Homo sapiens: one gene and its partner. The protein of the gene in region 1 purifies or fractionates together with the protein of each later gene. This does not show direct contact. Each region holds a gene or a part of one and is shown on either strand. Other genes may lie near its edges.

The links.
Region 2: the proteins of LYPLAL1 (region 1) and NIT2 fractionate together in Homo sapiens (co-fractionation; one large-scale study listed by BioGRID). This does not show direct contact.

The regions. Positions count from the first base shown.
Region 1 is NC_000001.11:219,180,317-219,184,334, forward strand, and holds part of LYPLAL1 (lysophospholipase-like protein 1), read left to right. Parts: intron 1-4,018.
Region 2 is NC_000003.12:100,354,846-100,358,863, forward strand, and holds part of NIT2 (omega-amidase NIT2), read left to right. Parts: intron 1-331; coding exon 332-423; 3' UTR 424-4,018. UniProt on the Homo sapiens protein: Has omega-amidase activity. The role of omega-amidase is to remove potentially toxic intermediates by converting 2-oxoglutaramate and 2-oxosuccinamate to biologically useful 2-oxoglutarate and oxaloacetate, respectively.

The DNA of each region.
Region 1 (4,018 bases):
ATGCAAATGCCTTGCTTTATATTTTCATTAACTTAGTATTAAGGAGAAATAAAACCAGAACTTCAAGGACGTTTTTATATGTACTAATAAGAATTTACTTACTTTAATTGATAGAATTGAAAAAGGGAGAACAAAATGATAATGTAAGACTGAAGACTCAAAGGAGTTATTATTTAAATGTAATTTTAATAGAGTTTAAAAGTTTGGTAATCTAGTTAAAAGACCCAATCACCAGTGGTTATTTTTGTGCTATAAATTGCATGTCTTTGAAAATGTCAAAAAAGCTTCTTGTTACTGATTTTTAGGATAGTTGAAGTTGGAAGGAAGAAACATAGTGGTATTTCTGCAGGGATGAAAGATAAGTTCATTTCTACCTAAATATAAATACAATTGTCTGATTAATCATAAGACCACTGAAAACCTTATTCTAGGAATTAATATTTTTTATCTTAAGAATTTCATGTCATTACCAATTGTGATAGGAATTCTAGGCAGTATTTCTCAAACTTTAGGCCAGAGTTATTTCAGAAAATCCAAAAATCTCCATGTGCACTAAGCATTATTTGTGGGTGCTGTTGTGATTTAGTAAAATATGAAATCATTGGACCAGCTTCATGGTAACTTTTTGTTACACAGTTTTATAACCAATAGCTATTTGAACAGATCATCGAACGTTTTAGACCATACTCACCAATAGAAATGTAATATGAGCTACATATAAATTTAAATGTTCTTGATACCACATTATAAAAAGGAAGAAATACGTAAGATTGATTTTAATAATATATTTTATTTAACCCAGTATATTCAAAATATTCAACATGTAATCGGTATAAAATTATTAAAGTGATATTTTATATTTTTTACACTAAATTTTTGAAAATTGGCATGTTTTACATGTACGACACATCTTACTTCTGATGCTAAATAATTACACTGAAATTAAATAGTAGTAAAAATTAGGTTCCTCAAGTTGCCCTGGCTACATTTACGTGCTTCATAACCTTATGTGGTTAGGGGCTGCCATTTTCTACAGCTTAGTTTTAGAACTTAAAGAGGAGTTCCCATATACAGTAGATTGGGAGCCACTGTTCTAGATCAAGTCATCATTTTTACTTATTGGTTTGCTCAAGTTTTCACTTATTAGTAGCAAAACATAGAAGATTTCCAACACATTACTTTAAATATTAAATTATTTAATTGCAATAGAAAATGAAACTGGCATAAACAAATTTGAGAACAAACATAGTTGACTCTTAATAAGCATAAAAAGCATAAGGCTCAGTTTGTGGGAGCAAAAGTGTGAGGGTGTGCAAGAATGAAGCCTCTTGATCTGGACCATTTGGTCTTCCATGGGCGTTAGATATAGGAATACATGGCTTTGGTTAATACTATGAGGCAATTCAGTGGAGGTCAGTTAAGAGAGATGATATCATACTTAGTATATTATAATTAGCTGATTTTTTTCCTACCTTATGCTGGACTAATTTTCTAGAGCAGTTTATATGATACTTACTTCTGTATCCCTACAGACACTGAGGGATACTGTATCTCTAAGCACTTAGCATAGAACCTGACAAATAGATGTTTAGTGAAGATTGAATAAATATCTTGCAGTATTTGCTTGTTGTTGTTATTTAAAATAGTGTAATAGGAATGAGTAATTGTGGGTATTTATATATAATACTAATATTTTAATTGTGTAATAGTTTATGCCTATGTGAGGTTTTAAAAAGTGTATTTTGTTGTGGTAAATAACCTAAGAATTGTTGTTCATAAGGGGTTGCAATTACTTGTCCTAAGACTTGACCCTGCAATAGATTGAGTGAGCACCAGATTATGGGCCAGTTTTAACTAATGAGTCTCAAATTGAGGAGCACTGCGGTATCATTAAGCCTGTAGCTTTTAACTGGTTTCCAGACTTCAGAATGCTGTTTGATAGTATTTTATTAGAATGCTCTGGCATTCATGGTGTACTTTGCTGTTTTAAGACTTCTGACTGGTGTTCCTAACACATTACCCTGTTTAGGCAAGCAGTTTGGGCATAGATTTATTGTCGTTGCTTTTGTAGCATAATATGGCTTCATTTGCGGTTTTAAGGATAGTTGCTACCTTCCATCTATTATGGCAATGTTTCTTGTGCTGCTAATAAGAGAGATTCTGGTGTCATCTACCTTGCTTGCTACCTTTCCGGTGACGTCAAAAGGAGGCATGTGATAGATACGTGCCTTCCTTAACTCTCACTCTTTTTAATGTGATTGGTACAGGATAAAAATGAATTTTAATAACCTTTTTAAAAATTTATCAAGGTTTCATGCTTTAACATGTTGCTACATACTTTCTGATATTGTCCACATTTCTGGTATTTATTCTCTCTCCTGATTTTTTTCTTTCACCACTTGTAAACCCATAAGTTTTTCTGTACTATGGATATTTCATTGACTATGTTATTCCTATAAGGTATATTGAAGATATCACTTGGCTTGTAAAATCATTCCATTGATGGCATGTAAATGATATTCAGGGTTTACCTGCCTGTTAGTTGGCCAGTTTTGTCCTAGAATGTATCTAATCTCTTGTTACATGGAAGTGATGCTTACTATTATGTGGCTTTACCCAAGCCAGTATTTATAGAAATGAGTGAAAATGAAATGTATAAAAGCAGGTTAAGCTTTATTAACTTTGGTACACTATGCCAAGCATATTTCCAGAGAGGCTGTAACAATTGACAGCCTCACCAGCAGTATTCAAGATTCCCATTTGTCTCACATCCTCCTGAACACTTTCCATTGTCTTTTTAATTTTAGCCAAACCAGTAGATGTGTAATGGTATCCTATTGTGATTTTTATTAATATTTCTTTAATACTAATGATGTTGCACACTGTTTTATGTGCTTATTGAGCATTTAAATATCCTCAAAAGAAATGCCCACTCAGATTATTTGCCCATTCTTTTATTTGGTCATCTTTTTCTATTGATTTGTTGGAGTTCTGTAGTTTTTTGGATACAGTTTATTATTGTTGTTGGATATATGAATACAAATACCTTCTCTTTGTGGTTTGCATTTTCACATTCTTAATGACATCTTGTGGACATAAGTTCTAACATGTTTCTTTAAAATTTACAGTGAAATACAGAAATTGTATGTGCATAGTTAATTTTGATAAATTATAGTACAGAGAATTTTGGTAAAATTATGCACCTATTTACCTCAATTAAGTTGGAGAATATTCTCATCACCCCAGAAAGTTTCCTTGTGCTTCTTTCAAGTCAACTCCCATCTCATGTATTATTGTTTGCATATCTATTACTGTAGCATAGTTTGGCTTGTTCTTGAATTTCAGTTAAATTGAGTCACTTAATGAGTGACTTAATGGAATCTTGTGTCTGGCTTCTTTTATTCAAATTGGTATTTTTGGGATTCATCTATATGTGTGTATCAATAGTTCAATTTTTAAAATTCTAAGTAGGTATTATATAAATATAACACAGTTTGTTTATTTATCTACTGTTGTTGCACGTTTGGATCATTTCCAGTTTTGAGATCTAATGAATAATGCTACCATAAATATTCTTGTTACACGTCTTTTTGTGAGCATAATTTGAATTCTTATCTAGACTCTATTCCATTGGTCTAATCTTATAGTAGTACAAAATTGTTGTAATTATCACAGCTGTATAGAAAATTTTGAAACCAAGTGGTGTAAGTTTTGCTCATTCTATGTTACTTGCATTTACGTGTAAATTTTAGAACCTGCTCTTCAATTTTACAAAACACCTGTTTGGATTTTGATTGAAATTGCATGGAATCTAGTTTGATTTAGAGAAAATAGATGCCTTCTAATACATACACATGGTATGTCTCACCATTTACTTAGGTCTTTATTAATTTCTCTCAGAAGTGATTCGGAGTTTTTAGTGTAGAAGTCTTTTGCTAAATTTATCTACAAGTATTCTGTTTCTTCATGTTATTGTAAATGGAATGTTAAAAAACTTAATTTTCAAATTGTTGCTAGT
Region 2 (4,018 bases), on another chromosome or scaffold:
TGGTTTAGGTCTCTGATGTCCCCATTGTTCTGAGGCCAGACTCCATGGCTGGGAAGTCCCTGTCATTTGGAGGGGTTCCTTTATGCCCCTTCTCATTGATCTCTGGGGATATTCTAGGGTCTGGTTCTCTGGCCAATCCCTGGGGAGTGTATCAGCTTGAATTTTCTTGGTTTGGTTTGAAATGATGCCAGGCCATCTGTGCACCTAGATAAGACCTATGTTACTAAGTTACTTACTAAGACTCTGGTGGTTTATACAGTCAGGGGAAGAAATCCCCTTGGTTAGTGAGGAGTTGCAAATTATTAATAGTGCACTTTCCTGTTTTTTGCAGACCTGAAGAAGCTGGCTGAAATACGCCAGCAAATCCCCGTTTTTAGACAGAAGCGATCAGACCTCTATGCTGTGGAGATGAAAAAGCCCTAAAGTTTATGTTTCTAATGTGTCACAGAATAGGACGATATGATTCTACAACATAATCAACTCCCTATTAAATTCTTTAATGAAGATTTTTTTTTTAATTCGGCCTTGTCCTTCCTAGGTTCTCTATTGAGATGAGAAAGCCTCATTATGCTGACATTTTCCACGCCACATTAAATAGTTAAAAAGGATGCAGCCTGGAGCCAGAGAGCAGAAAGCTGGGCTGGTTCTGAAGCTTCTTCCATACTTAAGTTGCCTCCAAGCAGTTTGTGAAAGTATCAGATCTTGGTATCCTGGTGATTGATTCACCTAATATAAATATATTTGTGTCATGAACCTCTTATCCCGTTGCTGGAGTTGTAATCTCCATCATCTAGAAAACGTGGTCTGGTGCTATTCTTTTCCAAGCAGTACCTTGAAGTTCCATTTTTGGTTCATGAGTAGCTATAGAACGCAAGGTGATACATCTTTGGTGTTTGCCAGAGAAGTTGGCAGCCCCACCCCTCCTACCAGCCTTTGCACTCTTCAAATTTAAAAAGGAGCTACTTATCAACCCCAGGCCCTTCTGGTCTTAGAGGAAGGACTGGGCCAACAAAGAGCACCATGGGAGAATGGCAGTGGTGGCATTTAGTGAAGACAATTTAGTATGAATGTCTGCAAAAGATTTTTTTGATAGCGTTGAGTGTCTGAAAGTCCCATTATTTTTCTTTTTTCTTTTTCCCCAGTAACACTTTCTAGCTCCACGGATAAGGAATCACTGAACCTAGTAGTTCTTAGACAGCTTGGTTTGAGAATCCTTTTGCGGTTAAAAATTAGGGACTGAGCCAGGCGCAGTAGCATGCGCCTGTAGTCCTAGCCACATTGGAGGCTGAGGTAGGAGGATCCCTTGAGTCCACAAGTTTGAGTTCAGCCAGAGACCCTATCTCACTATATATATGTATCTCAAAGACTTCAATGGGTTTTTGCTTACATGGGCCAGTAATTGTTGAACAACCAGCTATTTGAGAAAAAGCCCTGATTTTGCTGCTTTTCATGGTGTAAATACTTAACCATGGCTGAGTTTGAGCTATCTGCATGACACCTCTAAACACAGAGTTGGGAATAGATGTGCACAATCAGCTCTGGGGAGCTGGTGCAATCCTGCCCTAGCACACCACTGGTTTAAGATAGATATATCATATAGATATTTACCATTTACCATATTGGAAAGTAAAATGGAGAAAAATTTAAAACACAAGATACATGAGCACACATTCCATTAGCTATTAAGGTGATGGACACGGTGTCCAAATGACACGGTGTCATTTAACTTCTGGAAAACAACACTGTGTACTGAGAACAAGAGAAAGACAAATGACTTTTTTAAATTAAGTTTTTAATTTACAATTGATGCATAATTTTACTTTAAAAAAATAAGTGTGCAATTTGGTAAACTTTGACATATACAGCTATAAACCACTCCAATCAAGATAACATATTTACCACCCCCAACAGTTTCCATGTGCTGTATTATAATCCCTCTGGCTAGTCCTTTGTCAATCACTGATAAATTTTATTACTATAGATTAGCTTGCATTTTCTAAAATTATATAAAAATGAAATCATGCCATTAGTGCTTTTTCTGTATGTCTTCTTTCACTCAAAATCACTTGGAACTCAAAATTACTTCTTTCACTCAAAATCACTCAAAATTACATACTCTGTATGTCTTCTTTCACTCAAAATTACTTCTTTCATTTTTAGACGGAAGCATTTAGACCTCAAAATTACTTGGAGATTCATCTGGTATGTGCATTAATAATTCATAATTCATTCCTTTTTTATTGCTGAGTAGTATACAATTTGTTTATCCATTTATCTGCTGTTGGAGATTTGGGCTATTTCCAGATTTTGGCTGTTGCAAAAAAGCAACCTCACAGATCCTTTTAAAGGATGTCAGGTGCTTTCAGGTAACCCTAGACTATAGTACCACTGCTCTCTATCCTAGCAGGCACACTGAAAGTTAAACCTTGTAATAGTGCGAAATCATTTTCTTTTTTAAAAATATATTTTCTTACTTTTATATATTTTACTCAATCTCATGACAGATTACATTTTCTTTTTTAAATAGAAAGTCTTACTGTAAAGCCCACATCTGTATAAAAAAATGAAAGAATGATCTGGTTGATGTGGATGTGTGGAACCTAGGAACCTTCTCTTGGATTTTCTCTTATTCCCCAAAAAACTTCATTTCCTCTAAAGAGCTGCTCAGAAGTTTGAAAACCAGTGGACAAGCCATCCTAGCTGTCTTGATGCTAGAGAAGCAAAGACGCTTTACAGAGATGTAGCATTCCTGTAACAGGTAAGGCAGGTGGATGCTAAACTTTTTACATTTCTTTTTTTTTTTTTTTTTTTTTTGAGACAGAGTCACGCTGTCGCCCAAGCTGGAGTGCAGTGGCATGATCTTGGTTCACTGCATCCTCTACCTCCTTGGTTGAAGCAATTCTCAGGCCTCAGCCTCCTAAAAGTAGCTGAGACTACAGGCACGTGCCACCATGCCTGGCTAATTTTTGTGTTTTTAGTAGAGATGGGGTTTCACCATCTTGGCCAGGCTGGTCTTGAACTCCTGACCTCAAGTGATCCACCTGCCTTAGCCTCCCAAAATGCTAGGATTAGAGGCGTGAGCCACCGCGCCCGGCCTAATTTTTGTATTTTTAGTAGAAATGGGGTTTCACCATGTTGGCCAGTCTGATCTCGAACTCCTGGCCTCAAGTGATCCACCAGCCTTGGCCTCCCCAAAGTGTTGGGATTACAGACGTGAGCCACGGCACCCAGCCTTTTGTTTGTTTTTGTTTTTATGTATTTCATTAAATGAATTGTCCTTTTAGTGGTATATCAGGAGATCTTGCCTTCTGGTACTCTTGAAAAATATGAAAAGAAACAACTGAAGTAGGCATCTCCTATAATTAGTATGTAGCATTTTATTCTCAGAAAATGTGTGGTAACCTGGCCCTGGATTTTACCTTTTTGCAAAGTGATATCCGAATAAAATGAACACTAGATTCCCACTTGGAGTGGAAGAACATTGCAGTTGAGGCCTTGGGTAAGTTTTAACTGCCATACCCCTGTACTCCCCGACTTTCTAATGAATTAGACAATGATGTTTTATTTTTGTTTTTTGTTTTTGCATAATACTTTGAAGTCTGCTATCACAAGTTGTGAACCTCTATCTCTTGCAGTTTAGGTAAGGCAACACATTTAATGAATTCACATTTAAGTGAATTCCTCACAGGGATGACGACCTCTGTTGAAATAGGTCAGGATGTGCAGTTTGTGGTGAAAGTTCTACTTGACTTTGACCTAGCTGTTTGAAGCTGAGAGCTAACAGATAATAAGTGTTGCACTGGTTGCAAATGAATAAATAAGTAACATTATGGGGTTTTAAATGACCAAGGAGTAGATTGTGACATCGACTGGGTATTTAGGGAAGGACTCCTTCCTGATACCAAAAGTTAGGTCTGTGCAAAGTACACCAAGTGGAAAAAAGTTTAGACAAGAGTTTAGGTTTCAAGATAAATGTTCTGCTCTATTGGCACTGGTTTTAAGTCTTTTGTGCTACTTT